2 separate regions of the Homo sapiens genome follow, and region 2 is linked to region 1. The links come from fine-mapping of genetic effects on gene expression. A gene starts in region 1. The other region holds a variant in brackets. All regions are shown on one strand. Distances are from middle to middle.

The links.
Region 2: its variant is fine-mapped to the expression of MARK4 in whole blood (INTERVAL, PIP 0.98).

What each region holds. Positions count from the first base shown.
Region 1 is chr19:45,245,642-45,256,278 of GRCh38, forward strand. It overlaps MARK4 (microtubule affinity regulating kinase 4), which reads left to right and starts at 5,630. Exons shown (of 17, transcript NM_001199867.2): 1 at 5,630-5,998. The coding sequence starts at 5,948. RefSeq lists enhancers at 1-456, 6,538-7,094 and silencers at 5,305-5,684, 5,915-6,064.
Region 2 is chr19:45,291,655-45,302,291 of GRCh38, forward strand. It overlaps MARK4 (microtubule affinity regulating kinase 4), which reads left to right. Exons shown (of 17, transcript NM_001199867.2): 14 at 2,695-2,798; 15 at 6,022-6,300; 16 at 8,157-8,201. Among named protein-coding and RNA genes, the nearest start is that of CKM, 26 kb to the right of the region's middle. RefSeq lists a silencer at 1-182. The variant T/C (reference allele first, on the strand shown) is at 4,530.

The sequences.
Region 1 (10,637 bases):
AACACCATCCTGGGCGCCCCGGGGAGACACCCCAAGCTGGACGCCAGCCCAGAGCTGCTCTCCAGCATGGGCAAGCCCCGAGGCCTTAGAATGAGAACCGGGGGGCAGGCACGCATCTCTCTAGAGTTCCCTGCCACGGGCTGAAGACCAGGAGGGAAGTTTTGCTGGGCCCAGGGGCTGGGGAGGGGGACCTATGGAGGAGGGCACTGGACATGGCTTTGGAATTGTGGTTCTCTTTGTCTAGAAGCCCCTGTACCCAGGTCTCTGCATGAGGCCCTCCTTTTCATCATCCCAGTTCCAGCCCCACAGTCTCTTCCTCTGTTCTCCACTGTCCCGTCTCACAGAGTCGTCACTCTGCTTTGTCAATTTATTTTTCTTTTTTTTTTTCCTGAGACAGAGTCTTGCTCTGTTGCCCAGGCTGGAGTGCAGTGGCGTAACAATAGCTTACTGCAGCCTGGATCTCCCAGACTCAAGAGATCCTCCCACCTCAGCTTCCTGAGTAGCTGGGACTACAGGCATGCACCACCATGCCCAGCTAATTTTTGTATTTTTTGTAGAGACACGGGTCTCATTAGGTTCTCCAGGCTGGTCTCAAACTCCTGGCCTCAAGCCATCCTCCTGCCTCGGCTTCCCAAAGTGCTGGGATTACAGGCGTAAGCCACTGTGCCCAGCCTGTCAATTTCTTTATTGCACCTTCTACAATCTGAAATTATCAGATGCAACTGGATTCCTTGCAGATAAACTCAGCAAAGCTCACTTTGTTGATCCTGTTCATCTTTATAAGCCTAGCTGCGTGCCTGGCCCTCAGTAGTCAAGATTTAAATGAATTTAAATGAAGCTGAGGGTTGGAGGTGGGTTTGGAGATGGACTTCCTGCTAGAGTTGGGATGCCAAGTGAAGTGAGGGCTGGGGCTGGAGCTGGTGCTGGGTGGGGTTGGGTATGAGAGTCAGGGTTACTTTAAAAGGCTAGGGCCATGTGTGGTGGCTCATGCCTGTAATTCCAGCACTTTGGGAGCCAAGGCAGGGGGATTGCTTGAGCCCAGGAGATCAAGACCAGCCTGATAATATAGCAAGACCCCGTCTCTACAAAAAAAAAAATTTTTTTAATTAGCCAAGTGTGGTGGCACGCTGTAGTCCTAGTTACTAAGGGAGCTGAAGTGGGAGGATCACTTGATCCTGGGAGGTGGAGGCTGCAGTGAGCCATGATCTCGCCACTGCGCTCCAGCCTGGGTGACAGAGAGAGACCCTGTCTCAAAAATTAAGAAAAAAAAAATTTTTTTTAAATAAATAAAACTGGGCTGGTTGCAGTGGCTTATGCCTATAATCCCAGCACTTTGGGAGGCCAAGGTGGGTGGATCGCTTGAGGTCAGAAGTTTGAGACCAGCCTGGCCAAACTGATGAAACCCTGCCTCTACTAAAAACACAAAAATTAGCCAGGTGTGGTGGTGCATACCTGTAATCCCAGCTACTCGGGAGGCTGAGACGGAAGAAATCGATTGAACCCAGGAGGCAGAGGTTGCGGTGAGCCGAGATTGTGCCACTGCACTCTCCGGCCTGTGAGACAGAGTGAGACTCCATCTCAAATAAACAAACAAACAAATAAATAAATAAGATAAACTGTGTTCAAGTGCTCAGGCACAGCCTGAGGGGGATGCGTGATCACTGGCCTAGGCAAAGTCCAGGCTGGGATCAGGGTTGGGGTCAACATTAGGATCGGGGGCTGGGCTTAGGGATCACAGCTCCCTCCTGGATCCAAGGGTTAAGATTCAAAGGTCTGAATGCCCCAGTTGAAGGAATGAATTCACCAGACATAGGTTGTGGAGGAAGGGCTAGCTGGATGACCAGGTCGGGAGGCAGAGGAACAGGCCTTGCCCCCCAGCTCGGCCTCTGCACCGCGGACCCATGGTCAGCAGTGGCCCATCATGTACTGGGATCGTGCAGGATTTCCACCCCGCCTTATTTATTTATTTATTTATTTATTTATTTAGAGACGGAGTCTTGCTCTGTCGCCAGGCTGGAGTGCAGTGGCGTGATCTCTGCTCACTGCAACCTCCGCCTCCTGGGTTCAAGCAATTCTTCTGCCTCAGCCTCCCGAGTAGCTGGGACGCAGGCGCTTGCCACCTGCAAGCGCCCGGCTAATTTTTTGTATTTTTTTTAGTAGAGACAGGTTTTCACTGTGTTAGCCAGGATGATCTCGATCTCCTGACCTCGTGATCTGCCCGCCTCGGCCTCCCAAAGGGCTGGGATTACAGGCGTGAGCCACCGTGCCCGTCCCCCTCCTTTTTAAAAATTATTTTTTTTATTTTGATTTAGAGACAGGGTCTCACTATGTTGCCCAGGCTGGTCTCGAACTCCTGGGCTCAAGTGATCCTCCCGTTCTGGCCTCCCAAAGTACGGGGATTACAGGTGTGAGTCACCGCGTCCAGCCCCCTTTTTAAATTTTATTATTATTTTTTATTGAAATACAATTCACATACATAAGAGTCACCCTTTTCAAACAGAGTCCGGTAGGTTTTAGTATATTCACAAGGTTGCAGCAAGCGTCACCACTATTTAATTCCAGAACATTCTCATCACCCCAAAAAGAAACCTGGTACCCATCAGCAGTCATTTCTCATTCCCCAGCCTCCAACCCCTGGCAACCATTAATCTACTTTCTGTCTATGGATTTGCCAATTCTGAATATTTCATATGAATGGAAGCATACAGTAAGTGGTCTTTTGCGTCTGACTTCTTTCGCTAAACATGCTGTTTTCTTTTTTTCTTTTTTGAGACGGATTCTCACTCTGCCGCCCAGGCTGGAGTGCAGTGGCGCGATCTCAGCTCACTGCCAGCTCCGCTTCCCGGGTTCACGCCATTCTCCTGCCTCAGCCTCCTGAGTAGCTGGGACTACAGGCGCCCGCCACCGCGCCCGGCTAATTTTTTGTATTTTTAGTAGAGACGGGGTTTCACCGTGGTCTCGATCTCCTGACCTCGTGATCCGCCCGCCTCGGCCTCCCAAAGTGCTGGGATTACAGGCGTGAGCCACCGCGCCCGGCCACATGCTGTTTTCAAGGTTCATCCACTTTGCAGCCTCCCTCTCTGTAAGCCTCGGTCCCCCCACATCTGGGAAATGGGGTGGGGACGCTGTTGGGGAAGGGAGGGCAGGGGTGGACCCTGGAGTGTGTGGGGCGCGTGTAGGGAGGTGATCGGCTGCCCCCGTGTGGTGCACGGTAGAACTGCAGCTCTCAGCGCCAATGCAGGGAACGGGTTGGGGGCGCTCAGCCCCTCTAGCCTACCCCCAAGACCCCCACTTTCACCCTGCGGCGTCCCTGGGATCACAGTACGTCTAGAACACTACCCCGGAACTCCACCCTCTCTGCCACTGTCCCTGAGGCTCCTCGGGCCATATTTGCCAAATAGTAATAATAATGTCCCCACATATGAATTTTGAATCTGGTCCCCTGTGAAGCACTTTACTCAAAGATTCTCATTTATTTGTTAGCAGTAACATTAAAATAACAAATAAATATAAACAAATTGACAAATAAAAATAGTAGCAGCCTGAGGTTGCTGCTATTATTTTTCGGAGACAGGAAACCACAGTGGTTGAGAGAGGGTCCAAGTTCTGGAACTTGGGAGCACTTGGATTCAAATTGTAGCCCTGCCACTAATTTGCCGTGTGACCTTCAGCGTGTGACGTTTCTCCCTTCCTTGGGCCTCTGTTTCCTCATCTGCAAATGGGATTGATAAAGATGCTCCCTACCTCTTGGGGTGGCAGAAAGGAGAAACTGCTCAGAGCCTGGCACAAGGGCAACTGCCATGAGTCTGTGTTGCTCATAGTATCAAGCAGTGCTGTGCTTTCACAACCAGCTTTTGGCTGAGTGCAGGGTAGTCCCAGCACTTTAGGAGGCCGAAGTGGGAGGATCGCCTGAGCCTGAGAGTTGGAGATCAGCCTGGGCAATATGGCTACAAAAAATTAGCTGGGCGTGGTGGTGCACACCTGTAGTCCCAGTGACTTGGTGGGGCTGAGCTGGGAGGATTGCTTGAGCCGGGGATGTCCAGGCTGCGGTGAGCCATAATCGTGCCACTGCACTCTAGCCTGGGTAATGCAGTGAGACCCTGTCTCAAAAACAAAACAAAGCAAAGCAAAACAAAACACCCCCAGCTCTCTGCAGGTGGGGGTGTGGAGCCTTAATTTGTAGCATTTGCCAATTTCCATGGTGTAAATATTCCCACCATGGCTAATTTCAAGCTACCAAGGTGATATCACATGGCATTTTTGCCCCCCATTATATAGTAATTTTACTGTGCAGCTACAATAGACGTAGGTAACCTCAAGATCACAGATAATGGCAAATGTAGTAAGATAACTAGGACGTGATGAGTATGTATTACTTGTACCTTTAATGTAATTTAATTGTATGTTTGCATAATTTAATTTTTAATAATGGCTGTGTTTAACAACCAGTTCCAAAATTCCTGAGACATAACAATCAGCTCGCTCCAGCCAGATCCAGCACACTGCTGTTTTAGAAGGGGAAACTGAGGCTCAGGAAAATAAGCCTCAGATAGAAGAAGGCAGGGCACAGACCCCTTCCCAAAACCATGTGACTCCCAGGCCAAGACTATGTAATGCCTGTCTTTCTTTCATCCCACCCTGGTCCACAGAGCATGGATGGTCCCCACAGCGCTGTGTGGCCTCCGAGAGGCTCTTGTCCTCTCTGGTCTCAGCCTGCCCGCATGGGGAGTGGCTGTGCCCTGCAGGCGAATACCTGCACAGGGTTCCTTCGCACCTGCCAGTGAGCAACACACGGATTCTTCCTTTCACTTTACAAACTGGGAAAGTGAAGCCCAGAAAGGGCAAGTGCTTGCCCCGGGTCATACAGGTGGACAGAGAGGGTCCCCACACCCCAGCTGGGGTGCAAAGGAGTGGATGCTGCAGCCCCAACCTGCGGGTCTGGATCTATGTGGCTGAGTGGAGGCAGCCTGACTAGGGAGGTCACTGAGCCCTCAGCAGTGGCCAAGCCCCGCACACCATCCCCTTCACCCACCCCACCCTTAGGCCTCCGAGGGGAGAGCTTCCCCCGCTCCCCCCCGCCAACTGGGGAGAGAATGGGCCAGGGGGAGGGACAATGTGGGCAGCGCCTCTGGGGTCTTCTCTGGCTCAGTCCCTTTATCTCTATCTCTTCACAGATCTCTGCGTCTCTGTATCTCTTTGTCTCTCCCTGTGTGTGTGTGGGGTCTCTCTCAGTCTTTGTCCCTCTGCGTCTCTGGGTCTCTCTGTCTCTGTCTCCCTGCGTCTCTCTCTCTCTGTCATCTGGCTCTTCCTTCATCTCCTTGCGCCTCTCCACCCTTTTGTAACTCGTCTCTCTCTCTTCGTGTCTCTCTATCTCTACGTCTCTCGATCTCTCTCTCTGCGTCTCTGGCGCTCTGCCCCGGCCTCTCTCTCCCCTTCTCTCCTCTCCAGTGCGCCTCTCGTCTCGGGCGAGAACACGCTCCCCGCCGGCGTGCCCAGACCCGCCTCCGCCCCCGGAGCCCCCGGAGCCCCCGGCGCCCCGACCAGCCCGGGCCTGCGCCTTTAAGGGCCGGCGGCGGGGGGCGGGGTCCCGGCGCCCCGCCCTGCCCGCCCCTCCCCCTGACGTCCCTTCCTCCCTCCCCAGCCCCTCCACCGCCTCCCTCCGCCGCCGCTTGGGCCGGCTCCGCGCCCCCTCCGCGGCCCCCGCCCGCCCGCCTGCCCGCCGCCCCCATGGCGCCCGGGGTCCCCGCTGCACGGGGCCACTAGGACCCTCGGCGTCCCTTCCCCTCCCCCGCCCTGCCCCCTCTCCCGCCGCGCGGACCCGGGCGTTCTCGGCGCCCAGCTTTTGAGCTCGCGTCCCCAGGCCGGCGGGGGGGGAGGGGAAGAGAGGGGACCCTGGGACCCCCGCCCCCCCCACCCGGCCGCCCCTGCCCCCCGGGACCCGGAGAAGATGTCTTCGCGGACGGTGCTGGCCCCGGGCAACGATCGGAACTCGGACACGGTGAGTGGGGCCCGGCCCCTTGGGGAGCCCTGGCTGGGTCCAGCCGCCAAACCCTTCTCCCCGTTGTACCCCTCGCCCCGCGAGCCCCTACCCTCGTTTCCTGGGCCCGACCCGGCTCGTCACCTCTCGACCCCTCCCGGACTTCCAGGCCTCTCCACCCTCCCCACCTTTTCCAGCCCAGCCCGACCCCTGGGGGCGCCCCTCTCTCGGGACCCCTCTCTTGTCCCCGTGCAGACCGCTTCCGCTCGGGTCTGTTCCCTCCAGGAAGCCCCTTCCCCTGCTTCCAGGAGCCCCTCCCTTCTCTTGCCTGTGCTAAGCCGTTTCCCCTCCAGGCCGTCCGCGTCCGACACCTCGCCCCCTCCCGGATTTGCAGGGCCCCTGACCCCCCAAGGCCCGGCCCTGGCACTCTCAGCAGGGCCTGGCCCAGTCCTGCCTCTGGCTCCGGCCTTCCCTGTCTGGGGCTGGGTGCCGGCTCCCCAGGAGCCCCCCTCCTCTTATTCCCAGCCCTCTGCCCCTCCAGGACGCACCCAGGGCGCCTGTGGGCAGCCCCTGGCAGGAAGCTGGTTTCCACCTCTCCTGGGCCCCGGCCCTTTTCTGGCTTCTTCAAGGTCTCTCCCGTCCCAGGCCTGGTCCCCATCTTCCAAGCAGCCCTGTCCCTAGATCCCAGCACCCCGGGGCCCCCAGATGCCACCTGGACCCTTTCTGGTCTCTTCCTCTCCCAGGAAGCCTTGGCCTCCAACTTCTAGGCCCTCACCTCACCCAGGCTGGTATTTCTAGGCCCTGGACCAGTCTGACTCCAGGCCTCATCCGCCCTCTATCAACTTCTCAGCTTCAGGCAGCCCCTTCCCCAACCCCCAACCTCTGGACCCCCTGCTAGGCCAAACTCAGACCCCTTCCCCACAAACCACCGTCCTTTCTCCTGCCCCAGGGCCTCCCCCTTCCTTGCTGGGAGTCTGGCCTTCCAAGGAAGCCCCCTCCTCAGCTTCAGAGGCCTTCCTCAGCTACAGGGCCTGGCCCCAGATCCTTCTTCCAGAAAACTCCTGGACCTGAAGCCTCTCGTCTTGCCCTGGTTTCAAGCCCTTTTCCCTTGGGTCAATCTGCTGGAAGCTTTCTCCCCAAATTTCTAGACCCCTTGACCTTCCCCAGGGCTCAGCCTTTATTCATCTGGGCTGCTCCTTGCCCAAGAAGTTCCTACCCCATACTTCCAGGCCCCCCAGACCCTTCTCTGGTTTCAAGGACTTCTCCTAGAAGCCCCCTTCTCTGATTCCTAGGAGCTTCCCCAAGACCCAGGGATTCCTGGCCTCTGACTTCCACTGCCCCCATGGCTTTGTCACTTTCCACCATTCCCAGGCGCCCCCTGCCCCTACACTGCTTCCCAGAGAGGCCCCTCCCCATCTCCTGTGTCTCTGATCACTGATCACTTCCAAAGACCTGCCCACCACCCAATCCTAGACTTCTCCCCACCTGGGATCTTTGTGGCTTTCTCCAAATCCTTCTGCCAGGTCCCTGTTCCCCTTCCCCCTGTTTCCCTCACCTCCGACAGACCCCCCCACACACACACACCATCAGAGAGATTTATATCTGTCCCTTCCTCATCTTGCAGATCCCTCCCTCACAGAGACCACCCCGCATCATCACTATGGGCCAGAACTCCAATTTGGAGTCTAATGAAATGCCTACCACCTCTGTTCCTTGGTCACTACAATCTACAGTGAGGTGCCAGGGGCTCCACAGTCCTGGGTTCCAATGCTGACATGGCCAGCTGGTTTGCCTTGTGTCCTCAGACAACCAGTTCTCCCTTTCTGAGCCTCAGTTTCCTGCCCTGGAAAATAGGGGTGACCGCTTGAGTGCCTCCAAGGCTTACTCGATTCAGGCGAAGGCTGGCACCTAGGAAGCACTCCACAAATGCCAGCTGCTATTGTGGCTGTGGGTATGAGTCAGACAGCCCGTGGATTCTCAGCTCAGGGCTGTTATTGGTTGTTGAGTGAGCCTGCAGATTCACTCCCAGCTTGCAGCCTCAGTTTCCTTATCTCTAAATCGGGTTGATGATGGCCCCCCACTGTTAGGGATGTTTGCAGGAGCCAGCGACGTGATGTGACTAAGGTGCACAGGGCCTGGCATGTGTCGTGGCTGTTGTGGTTATTAGCACTACTTTAATTGTTCAGATAAACTTGGGTTCACATCCTGTTTCTGTCCCTCCCTAGCTGTGTGACCTCGGGCAAGTAACCTTACCTCTCTGAGCCTTGGTTTCCTTGTCTGTTAAGTGGAACGCCTAATGAAGACTTGCTGTTCCCTGGGTTGTTAAGATGCGTGCATGGTGCGGATTTGAGGATGGCTAATCCCCTTTTCTCTCCTCCAACTCTTGTCACTAAGACCTGCCTGTCAGTCCTGGTGGGGAGTCACTTGCCTGCCTCTGGAATGGGAGGTTGCAGCCCCCTCTCCTGTTACCTGGTTACCATGGCTACAGCCACGTGGGGTCATGCTCCCCCACCCCAAGTTCCAGGGCCCCCCACCAGGGGGCCAGCCTCCCCAGGTTCCCTAGCAACAGTCCCGGGTGTTGGGGCGCCAGCCGGGCGGGAGGGAGCCAGGCCAGCTGGTGGTGCAGGCCAATTTTAGCTCCCACCCCCGGCCCCCAGGGGCTTTGTCACCCACTGCCCCAGCTGCCCCTCGCAGGGGTCCCTCAGCCATGCTGCCTTCAGCGTGGTGCCATCCCACCTCCAGCTGGCTGCCCTGGCGCCACCTGACAGGGCTTCTTCTCCAGGTCCTTATCTTGGTGGGGATCGGAGGCCTTATCTCCAGGATCTCCACCTGCCTCCCTGGTCTCTCCTGGGAAGAAGCCTGGGCCTGTGGGGAAGCCTGGCTCAGCACTCAGGAGGAATCAGCAGGCCGGGGTTCGCATCCCAGCACTCTGCTCCATCTGCCCTGTGACCTTGGGGGAGGGACTCCCCCTGCCTGAGCCTGGGTGTCCCCGTCTGAAGACTGCAGATCATAATTGGACCCACATTGGAGGCCAGGGTGAGGGCACGGCAGGCAGTGGCGGACGCGTGGTTAGAGCCCTGGCCGTGGTGGTTGGAACTGCCCAGCTGTGGGGAGGTTGTCTTTCTGCCCCTGTGAATGGACTGTGTGACCTTCACATGGCACCTTCCCTCTCCAAGGCTCAGTTTCTCTGCTGGAACATGGAGTCATTCCCTGGGCTACTGCAGGAATTAAGTGTAGGCGAGTTACCTGTTTACACAGGACTTGGTCCATAGCATGAGCTGCTTTGTAGAAATGGTTCATGACCCAGCGTGGTAGCTCACACCTATAATCCCAGAACTTTGGGAGACCCAGGCAGGAGGATGGCTTGAGCCTGGGAGCTGAAGACTAGCCCGGACAACATAGCAAGACTCCATCTCTACAAAAAAATTTAAAAATCAGCTGTGTGTGGTGGTGCACTCCTGTGGTCCCAGCTACTCAGGAGCCTGAGATGGGAGGATTTGCTTGAACCCAGGCAGTTGAGGCTCCAGTGAGCCTTGATTACACCACTGCACTTCAGCCTGGGTAACAGAGCAAGGCCCTGTCTCAAAAAAAAAAAAAAGGTTCAGGTGTGAGAGGCAGTGTGGTATTGTGACAGAGAAGAGCATCAAGTCTGGTGGAAACTATCGGGCACGGTGGCTCATGCCTGTAATCCCAGCACTTTGGGAGGCCGAGGTGGGCAGATCACCTGAGGTCAGGAGTTCAAGACCAGCCTGGCCAACATGGTGAAACCCCCTCTTTACTAAAAATACAAAAATTAGACGGTTGTGGTGGCGGGCGTCTGTAATCCCAGCCACTCGGGAGGCTGAGGCAGGAGAATTGCTTGAACCCAGGAGGTGGAGGTTGCAGTGAGTTGAGATCGTGCCATTGCACTCCAGCCTGGGCAACAAGAGTGAAACTCTGCCAAAAAAAAAAAAAAAAAAAAAAAATACTGGTGGAAACTGTTTGGGTTCAGATCGTGGGTCCGGGTCTCACTTTCCCCACCTGTAAAATGGAGATAATAGTGTGGTAATGGCCTCATATTGCATCAATGACCAGCATTAATTAAACGTTAGTTGTCGTTGCTATCAAGTGGCCCGGCAGTGTCTTTCTCAGAGACTTGGGCCCCCAGCCCATCAGCCTCTTGGCCTTTCTTCCTCCCCTCCTGTTGTCCTCCTGCTTCCCACTCCCAGCCGGAAGGGCACAGGCAGAACTGCCTTGGCGGGAGGCCTCAGGCACCCTGAGCCCCAGCCCTGAAAGGGAGACAGTCCCTGGGGCTTCCAATCAGGCCAGGGCAGCTCAGAGCAGGCAGGTGACCTGCGGGGGAGAGAGGCCAGGGAGGGACAGGACAGTAGGAACAGAACATCAGGAGGAGAGAAGCCATGGTGTGGGAGACAGCAAGTCAGGGCGCTTCTCAAGCCCTGGGTGTTTCAGGGGGTGGCAGAAGCAACAGTGTTTCCCATGGAAGGAGGATAACAGGGATTCAACCAGGTCTCAGGGCCAGTGAAAGACTTGGTTACCCTGCAGGGGGTGGTGGCTCAGGCCTGTAATGCCAGCACTTTGGGAGGCCGAGGTGGGTGGATCACCTGAGGTCAGGAGTTCAAGACCAACCTGGCCAACATGATGAAACCTCGTCTCTACTAAA
Region 2 (10,637 bases), 46 kb after region 1:
ACCTGTAGTCCCAGCTACTCGGGAGGCTGAGGCAGGAGAATGGCATGAACCTAGGAGGCGGAGGTTGCAGTGAGCTGAGATTGCCCTACTGCACTCCAGCCTGGGTGACAGGGTGGGACTCTGTCTCAAAACAAAACAAAACAAAAAACCACATTGTCATGGCTGTAACCCAAGACTCAAAAACTTCATCCTCCATCAGAAGAGCTTCTTGATGCCCAGAGGGCTGGACAATAGGCACTGGGGCCCTGCTGAAGCAAAGACCTTCATCTCATAGCCTTGCCTGTGTGAGCTGAAGTCAAAGCAGGCAGGAGAGCAGCTGCTGCCCCATTTCCACCTTCCAAATCTTCATGAATGCAAAGATTGGCAGAACCCAACTTATATGCAGAACCTGAGCTGCAAAGGATTCTGGGAAATGTAGGACTTGGCTTTTTTGCATCTGAGTTCCCAAGAACAGCAAAGTACGAAAATATCCTCAACATAGGAACAGGAGAGTGGAGGCAGAGCTGGACATGGTGGCACACACATGTAGTCCCAGCTACTTGGGAGGCTGAGGTGGGAGGATTGCTTGAGGCCAGGAGTTCGAGACCAGCCTGGGCAACATGGTGAGATCCTATCTCTTAAAAAAGAGAAAAAGGGTGGAGGCAGTTTGAGAAAGTGGCCGGGACTCTGAAGCCACGTAGAGTTTGAATTACATTAATGAGCCGTGTGACCTTGGGCAAGTAACTTCACCTCTCTGATCTTTGATATCTCACTATGTGAAATGGGCTCATTAAAGAACCTGGGTCATTGTGAGGATCTTGTAAGATCTCATACGTGAAGTACTTCACATACTGGCACAGTAAGCACTCAGTGAATGAGAGCTATTGTTATTGCTAAACGAAACCCACACCTTAAGAAGGTAAAAAAGGAAAAGCAAATAAACCTCAAAGAAAGTAGAAGGGACCGGAATTGGTGGCTCATGCCTGTAATCCCAGCAGTTCGGGAGGCTGAGGCAGGAGGATTGCTTGAGCCCAGGAGTTCAAGACCAGCCTGGACAACATAGACCCTGTCTCTGCCAAAAATAAAAATTAGCTAAGTGTTGTGGCACATGCCTGAGGTTCTAGCTACTTGGGAGGCTGAGGTGAAAGGATCCACTTGAGGCCAGGAGGTCGAGGCTGCAGTGAGCCATGATCACCCCACTGCACTCCAGCCTAGGCATCAGAACAAGACCCCATCTCAAAAAAAGTAGAAGGGAGGAGGCATTAAAGAGAATAAATCAGTGAAGGAGAAAGAAGAGGTACAATAAAGCAACAAAACCTAAAGTTGGTTTTTTGAAAAGATTAATAAAATCAGTCTGGGCGTGGTGGCTCATGCCTGTAATCCCAGCACTTTGGGAGGCTGAGGCGGGTGGATCACTTGAGGTCAGGAGTTTGAGACCAGCCTGGCCAGCATGGTGAAACCCCATCTCTACCAAAAATACAAAAAATTAGCTGGATGTGGTGGTCCACACCTGTAATCCCAGCTACTCGGGAGACTAAGGCAGGTTCACTTGAATCTGGGAGGTGGAGGTTGCAGTGAGCTGAGATCATGCCATTGCACTCCAGCCTGGGCAAAATGAGTGAAACTCTGTCCAAAAAAATAAATAAATAAATAAAATCCAATGGACCCCTGGTAAAAATCAATTAAGGAAAAAAGACAGCAAACATGAATCACCAGTATCCACAATGAAAAGGGGAACTTTGTTCTAACATTAAAAGATAGTAAGATGATATTAGGAACTACTTTGTGCCAATAAATTTAACAGCTTAGATGAAATGGACACATTACTTTAAAAACACACTGTATCAAAACTGACACAAGAAGAAATAGAAAACCTGAACAGTCTTATATTCTTGTTAAAGAAATTGAATTCGTAACTGAAAACCTTCCCTATAAAGAAAATTTTTGGCTTGGATGACTCCCACCAGTGGAATTCTTCCAAACACTTAAAGAAGAAATAACACTAACCTTAGACAAACTTCCAGAGAATAGAAAAAGAGGGCTCTCTTCCTAACATGTTTATGAGGCAGCATAATCCTGATATTCCCTGTGTTCCCAGAGCTCACAGCCCAGTATGGGATGGGGACATATATGAGAACAGACATTGACAGCACAGTGATTGAAGCTGCAGTGGGGAGCCCAGGGGCCTGTGGGAACCCAAAGGAGGAGGCACGTGACTCAGCCTGGGGCCGGGGGTGGTGGTAGATTATGAACTGACACCTGAAAGATATGTAGGAGTGAGTCAGGGGAAAAGGTAGGAGTAATGTTCTAACAGGTGAGACAGCCAGTGCACAGGCTAGTCACAGTGACAGAATGTGGCATGAATAAGTACATTAGCAAACGTTTGGTGTGGCTGGGCTGGACCTCAAGAAGGTGGGCATTGCTGGGAGAAGAGCGGTGGACAAGGATGCCCCCTGGAAACCTTCCCTGCCTCGTTTTCCCTCAGTGCCCCCCTCTTCTCCGGTCTCCAGGGGTCTCCCCTGACTCAGCCTCGGTGGCTGGGATTACTCATGAACCTTTCACATCTTTGGGACCTTTCACCATCTCCTACTCACCCTGGGTTCCCACATGAGCCCCTGACTTATTCATCGATGGGGAGGGCAGAGAAGGGAAGAGGGAGAAGCTCAGGGGCATGTCTTCACCCCCTCACTCCCTTCCTGGCTGTGTCTCCTGCAGAACAACCTCCCTCCTAGCATGATGACCCGCAGAAACACCTACGTTTGCACAGAACGCCCGGGGGCTGAGCGCCCGTCACTGTTGCCAAATGGGAAAGAAAACAGGTACGGAGGGGGCAGCAACAGGGTGAGGGGTGGGAAGTAGGGGGTAGGTGAACAGGACCTCCCTTGATCTGAGATGATAGGCATTGGAGGCTGGTGCCATGGGGACCAGAGAGTGAGTGTATCTGCCCTGCCCTTGGCAGAATCGACCCATGTACCCCCCTGAAAATCCTCCCCACTTAATTAATTAGTCTTAAGCACCAGGAAAGCAGTTGGCCCTGTTCTCCGCCTACAAGCCTTGGGAACCTGAATTGATTTTTTGAATGATCCATTTTTAGAACTCGAGAGAAGCCCCAGAATGTCACAGCTTCAGCGTCATCTGGTTGGCTGGTTTTCCGGCTTGTTGGCCTGAGTCTGTGAGGTCTCTTCCAGCTGGCAAGGGAGGGAAACCAGTTCAGACTGGCTGGAGCAGAGAGAGGGAAGGGATTGGTTCACATCACAGGTCAAGGCCAGCTAGAATGGGGCCAGCTCCAGGATGAGGACACTGCCCCCCACCAGGGCTGTAGGGCAGGTTGATGGCCAACACCAGGGCACACTCTGGGATGCACCTGATTAGTGGGTGCAGGTGTTCCCACTGGGTGTGGGCAGAGGAATGGGGTAGTTAACAGTCACAAATCTGTCCAGGCACAGTGGCTCATGCCTGTAATACCAGCACTTTGGGAGGCTGAGGCAGGTGGATCAAGAAGTCAGGAGATCGAGACCATCCTGGCTAACATGGTGACACCCCGTCTCTACTAAAAATACCAAAAAAAAAAAAAAATTAGCTGGGTGCAGTGGTGGGCACCTGTAGTCCCAGCTACTCTGGAGGCAGAGGCAGGACAATGGCGTGAACCTGGAAGGCGGAGTTTGCAGTGAGCCGAGATCACGCCACTGCACTCCAGCCTGGGCAACAGAGCGAGACTCCATCTCAAAAAAAAAAAGTCACGATTCTGTGAATACTCAGTTCTGAGTTCGAATCTTACCTCTGTGCTCACACTGCTAGCAGAATGACCGGGTAAATCCCTGTGCCTCTGTTTCCTCCTCGGTAAAATGGGCTTGATGCTGGCCGGGCATGGTGGCTCACACCTGTAATCCCAGCACTTTGTGAGGCCGAGGTGGGCAGATCACCTGAGGTCAGGAGTTCGAGACCAGCCTGGCCAACATGATGAAACCCTGTCTCTACTAAAAATACAAAAATTAGCCAGGAACGATGTCATGTGCATGTAATCCCAGCTACTCAGAAGGCTGAATGAGGCAGGAGAATCGCTTGAACCTGGGAGGCAGAGGTTGCAGTGAGCTGGGATTGCGCCACTGTACTCCAGCCTGAGCCACACAGCAAGAATCCGTCTCATAAAAAAAAGGGCTGATGCTGTCCACTTCCAGGCCCCATTATAGAGATGCAGTAGAGATCAGGTGTGTCCTGTACCTGGCACTGGGTCTGATGCTTAGGAGGCCTTCATTCAGTGACTTGAGAGTGCTTTTTTTTGGTGGTTATCAAATAACAATAGTGAACATTCATGAAGCAGCAGCTACATGCCAGGCTTCTATGTCTATTGCCTGGCTCAGTGCCCCTAACAACTCTGTGAGGTAGATCCTAATATCTCCATTTTACAGCTGAGGACATAAGGCACAGAGAGGTTAAGTAACTTATCCAAGGCCACACAGCTGGTAAGTCAAGAAGCAGATTCCAGACTTGACTCCAGAATCTTATTTGTAATCACTGTAGTACATGGCCTTCCAGTTCTGCTCAAGAGA[T/C]AGTGGAACAGTTAAATTACAGACTCAGACAAAAAAAATCAAAAATTAAAAAAAAATTTAAAAACAACAAAAAATAAAAAGTATAGACTCAGCTAGCTGCTGTAATAAAAACAAAGAGATCCCAGGGTAGAGTAATTTAAATAAAAAGGACGTTTAGTCCGGAGGGTCCTCCAAGGACCCAGGTAAGTTCTTCCAGCCCCAAAATGAGTTTCCAGCTCTGGGACTGAGGCCGCTGCACCAGCAGCCATCATTTCCCAATCAGGAAGAAGTGGGGAAAGAGTAGGGGACAAGCAACAACTCTTTGTAAAGGCGTCACCCAGAGATGGTACAGAGCACTTCTGCTTATATCCCATTGGCCGGAGCATGGTCACATAACCATCTCTAGCTGCAAGAGAGTCTGGGAAATGTAGTCTCTGGCTGGGTGGCCATGTGCAGTGCTCATACTCTTAGGGGTTTGGTTACCAAGAACGAAACAGGGAGGATGGATTCTAAGGGAGAAGTAACAGCCTCTGCCACAATCAGGATTCTTCTCTGAGATCCAGGCTGGGCCTGGAGTCCCTGGGAGGATAGAAATTGGAGGTCTGGGCTGGGCGCAGTGGCTCACACCTGGAATCCCAGCACTTTGGGAGGCCAAGGCCAGTGGATCACCTGAGGTGAGGAGTTTGAGACCAGCCTGGCCAACATGGTGAAACCCCATCTCTCCTGAAAATACATAAACTACCCAGGCGTGGTGCTGCATGCCTATAGTCCCAGCTACTCAGGAGGCTGAGGCAGGAGAATCACTTGAACCCAGGAGGCAGAGGTTGCAGTAGCCAAGATTGCCCCATGGCCCTTCAGCCTAGGTGACAGAGTGAGACTCTGTCTCAAAAAAAAAAAAAAAAAAAATTAGCCAGGCATGGTGGCACACGCTTGTAATCCCAGCTACTCAGGAGGGTGAGGCAGGAGAATTGAACTCAGGAGATGGAGGTCTGGCCCCTGCTGTCGACTAGGAGGGTCCGAGGGGCTGGAGGAGGGTCCTGGGACAGTGGAACCCCCACTGCCCAGATTACCATAGTGAATACAGGTATCCTTGACCTTTACATCTATCCCTTTCCTGATTTTAGATGGTGAGAGTTCAGATAGCAAAGTGTTTGCCAAGTTGATTTGGTTCCTGAGGTTTCGGCAAATAGCAAGGAAGTCACCCAAAAATGTCTGTGCATCTATTCAGTTGCTGCGTTTAGAGAGAGGAGAGTTGTGATAGGAGATGATTTGGAGCGGGTAGAGTTTGAAGAAGGGACAGTTTGAAGGAGGGGTAATAGGAGAGGAGAGAGTCAGTAAAATAATGCTAGGATTGTATAGTGCACAGCCTGCACAACTGTACGTTGCAGCCCTGTCTCTGAGTTCCAGGCTGGTTGCAGTCCCTGGTCTCAGGACAGGAATGTGAAGAATCAAAGGGACTGGGGCCCTGGCCTGCCTCAGTCCCCCACCCTGACTTGTCTGTCTCTGCCCACAGCTCAGGCACCCCACGGGTGCCCCCTGCCTCCCCCTCCAGTCACAGCCTGGCACCCCCATCAGGGGAGCGGAGCCGCCTGGCACGTGGTTCCACCATCCGCAGCACCTTCCATGGTGGCCAGGTCCGGGACCGGCGGGCAGGGGGTGGGGGTGGTGGGGGTGTGCAGAATGGGCCCCCTGCCTCTCCCACACTGGCCCATGAGGCTGCACCCCTGCCCGCCGGGCGGCCCCGCCCCACCACCAACCTCTTCACCAAGCTGACCTCCAAACTGACCCGAAGGTGAGCTCCGCGGGGATGGCAGGGGCAGGGCGGGGCGGGGGGCCGATGGGACCTAACCTGTCTTCCACTCTGCTCTGTCTCCTGTACCCCAACATTTCCTCTTCCTCCTCCTCCTCCTCCTCGTTTCCTCCTCCTCCTCCTCCTTTCCTCCTCCCCTGTCACCCCTCACCTCCCTCCTCACACTGCAGGGTTACCCTCGATCCCTCTAAACGGCAGAACTCTAACCGCTGTGTTTCGGGCGCCTCTCTGCCCCAGGGATCCAAGATCAGTAAGTCCCGTCCATGCCCTGTTCTCGCTGGCTCTGCCTCCCTGCCTGCATGTCTGACCTGTGTGTGCGGGCATTGGGAGGGGGCTCTGTGGATGTGAGGGTCTGTGCGTGGGGTCTGGTTGTTCATTTACTCACAGAAGCACAGCCTATGGAGCCAGACTCGGGGGTTCAAATGGCAGCTCTGCCAAGTGACCTTGAGCAAGTCACTCAAGGTCTCTGGGCCTGGTTTTCCTCTTCTGTAAAATGGGTATAGTAATAACAATACCTGTCTCCTAGGGTTATTGTGAGGACTAAATGAAGTGACGTATGGACTGAGCGTAGAACATTGCCTTGGAAAGTGCTTTACATGTGTATTAGTTATTAATTGCTATTATTCATTGAGCCCCTACTGTGTGCCTGGCACTGTCCTAGGCCCTGTAGTAGAGGGTGAGCAAAATGTACAAAACTCCTGCCCTGGCAGACCCAACATTCTACTAAGGGATCTAGACAAAAAACAAAGAAATAAGTAAAATATACTTACTATATAGACTGCTAGGTAGTGCGAAGTAACTAAGAAGAAAAATAGAGTAGGAGCCAAATTTGGTGGCTTATGCTTGTAATCACAGCACTTTGGGAGGCTGAGGCGAGGGGATCACTTGAGCCCAGAAGTTCAAGACCAGCCTGGACAACGTAGCAAGATCCTATCTCTACAAAAAAGTAAATAAATTGGCCGGGCGTGGTGACTGCACCTGTATTCCCATGGAATTGGGAGGCCGAGGCAGGAGGATCACTTGAACGCAGGAGGTCAAGGCTGCTGTGAGCTATGATCATCAGTCTTGGCAACAGAGGGAGAACCTGTCTCTAAAAAAAAAAAAAAAAAAAAAAAAAATTGAACAGGGAGGGGAATAAGGGGTGTGGGGAAGGGATGGGGTGCAGCATTAAATGGGCAGGCCTCTGGATGAGGTGGCTCAGGCCAGCAATCCCAGCACTTTGGACAGATGACTTGAGTCCAGGAGTTTGAGACCAGCCTGGGCAATGTGGCAAAGCCCCATCTCTACAAAACAAAACAAAAAACAAAAAGCAGATGTGGCACGCGCCTGTAGTCCCAGCTACTTCAGGGGCCAAGGCAGGAAGATTGCTTGAGCCTGGGAGGTTGAGGCTGCAGCGAGCTGAGATCACGCCACTCCTGCATGACAGAGTGAGACTCTGTCTCAAAAAAAGAAAAAAGGGCAGGCCTCACGAAGGAGGTGTTGTTTGAGCAAAGCATGAATGTATATGTGAGCGAGGGAGTGTGTGTGTGTGCACACGTGCGTGTGTCTCTCTCTTTCTCTCTGTGGCCACTTATCTATGTAAGGGTGTGTCTCTGCCCACTCCCCTCCCTTTCATCTTCCACATTCTTCAGTATCTTTCCTGTGACCTGCACTAACCATTTCAGAATGAGCCCCGTTATGGGGATGGACAAGGAGATCAAATCCTGACTCCAGGCCCTCACCAGCCCGGAGGGACTGGGGTTGAGGCAGGGGCTGCTTGGAGTCCCAGAGGCAGTGGGTTGCGGGAGGTGGGTTCCCTATGTCCAGATTAGACACTCTGTCCCCCTCCCCTCCCCTAGGGTCGCAGACGAACCTGAGAGAATCGGGGGACCTGAGGTCACAAGGTGAGTGCTTGGGCCTACCCCTGACTGCCACTTCCCCTCTCCTGCCTCAGCACCTCCCGACACTTACCCCAGGGCATTAGATGGGGCCCCAGTCTCATCCTGCAAGGCCAACTTCCTGAAATGCCCTGTGGCCCCAGCCTTCTCTGCCAGCTCCTCTCATTCCCACCCAACCCCAAGCACCTTCCCTTGATCATCTTAAACTTCAGCCTCCGGCTGGGTGCCATGGCCCAAGCCTGTAATCCCAGCACTTTGGGAGTCCAAGGGAGGCAGATCACCTGAGGTCGGGAGTTTGAGACCAGCCTAAGATGGAGAAACCCCGTCGTTACTAAAAATACAAAAATTAGCCGGGCGTAGTGGCGCATGCCTGTAATCCCAACTACTCGGGAGGCTGAGGCAGGAGAATCGCTTGAACCCGGGAGGCAGAGGTTGCGGTGAGCTGGATTGTGCCATCGCACTCCAGCCTGGGTAGCAAGAGTGAAACTCCGTCTGAAAAAAAAAAAAAAAAAAAAAAAAAAGCCTCATCCCATCCACAACTCAACTCCTCTTCTGGTCAATGCCCCCACCTCCTTTTGCCTCTCATCCAGTCATGGCACAATGTTTGCTGGCAGCTCAGGGCCAGCAGGAGGCAAACATCTGTACGGACCCAGATCATGAAGATTTTAGGCTTTGAGGGCCAGGCACCCTGTGTCACGCCTGTTCAGTTGTGCCATTGTAGTGCAAAAGCAGTCATATTCAACACAAAACAAATGGGTATGGCAGTGTTCCAATGAAACTTTATTTACAAAAGCAGACAGCACTGGAGTTTGCCAAGCCCTGGTTTTGTCTGAGTTCCCGGTTTAGAGACCCAAGTGGAAACCGGAGCCTTCCCAGCAGCTGCAACAAACTGCCAGGGCTGACTCTCATTGGTTGGGACTTGGTCACATGCTCATTCCTAAACCAATGCCTGCAGCCAGAGAGGAGAAGTACTCTGGTTGGTCAGACCTGGTCATGTGGTCACCCTTGACCCAAGCACAGTGGCCGGGAAGTAGAATGCTATCATTGGCAGAGCTGAGTCGTGCTCACCCAAGCTGAGGGGCGGCCCCACCGGAACAAGGGAGGCTAGTCCTGGGATGCTCATGTAGAGCAGCACTCTCGTACTTCAGGCGGGACGTTTCTTTGTTGTGCAGGGCCCTCTTGCACATTGGAGAATGTTTTTCATTCCTGACCTACCCCATCCCCAACCTAGTCAGTGCCAGCAGTGCTCCCATCCTAAGACATGTGACAATCAAAAAGCCCCCAGAGGCCGAGCACAGTGGCTTATGCCTGTAATTCCAACAACTCAGGAGGCCAAGGCAGGAGGATCACTTGAGCCCAGGAGGTCGAGGCTGCAGTGAGCTGTGATTGCACTACTGCATTGCAAGACCCTGTCTCAAAAAAACTAAGAAGTGGCCGGGCACTGTGGCTCTCGCCTGTAATCCCAGCACTTTGGGAGGCCAAGGCAGGTGGATCACCTGAGGCCGGGAGTTTAAGACCTGCCTGCCCAACATGGTGAGACTCCGTCTCTACTAAAAATACAAAAATTAGCTGGCCGTGGTGCCTGTTCTCCCAGCTACTTGGGAAGCTGAGGCAGGAGAATTGCTTGAACCCGGGAAGCAGAGGTTGCAGTGGGCCAAGATTGTGTCATTGCCTTCCAGCCTGGGCGACAAGAGCGAAACTCTGTCTCAAAAAAAAAAAAAAAAAAAAAAGCCGGGCGCAGTGGCTCACACCTGTAATCCCAGCACTTTGGGAGGTCGAGGCGGGCAGATCACAAGGTCAGGAGATCGAGACCATCCTGGCTGACACGGTGAAACCGTGTCTCTACTAAAAATACAAAAATTAGCTGGGGCCAGGCGTGGTGGCGCGTGCCTGTAATCCCAACTACTCAGGAGGCTATGGCAGGAGAATCGCTTCAACCCAGGAGGCGGAGGTTGTGGTGAGCCGAGATCGTTCCATTGCACTCCAGCCTGGGTAACAAGAGCAAAACTCCGTCTCAAAAAAAAAAAAAAAAAGAAAAGGAAAAAGAAATTTCTCATTCAAACATTCAAACCATGTGGCCAAGCCAGGCTGGTAAGGCCACTGTGATCTATGCGGTCATTCAGGTCCCCAGGTTATTGCATCCCGATTCCCTGGAGCCCTTGTCATCTTCACAGTTGAGGCTGGCCTGTGCCACTGCTAAGTCCAGCTCCTGGGAGATGTGGGACAGGAGAGCCTGGCACATGCAGGTTCTTTGAAGGAACTGATGTGGATGGCACATCTCACTTCTGCTCATGTCCCAGAATTTACAGACAAGGTCACACCTGGTTGCAAGGGAGGCTGGAAAGTGTGGTCTCTAGCTGGGCAGCTCTGTATCCAGTTGAAACTGTCGCTGGGGTAACAGGGGAAGATGTTTTTTGAGGGGATGGCTAGGAATGTGTCCCG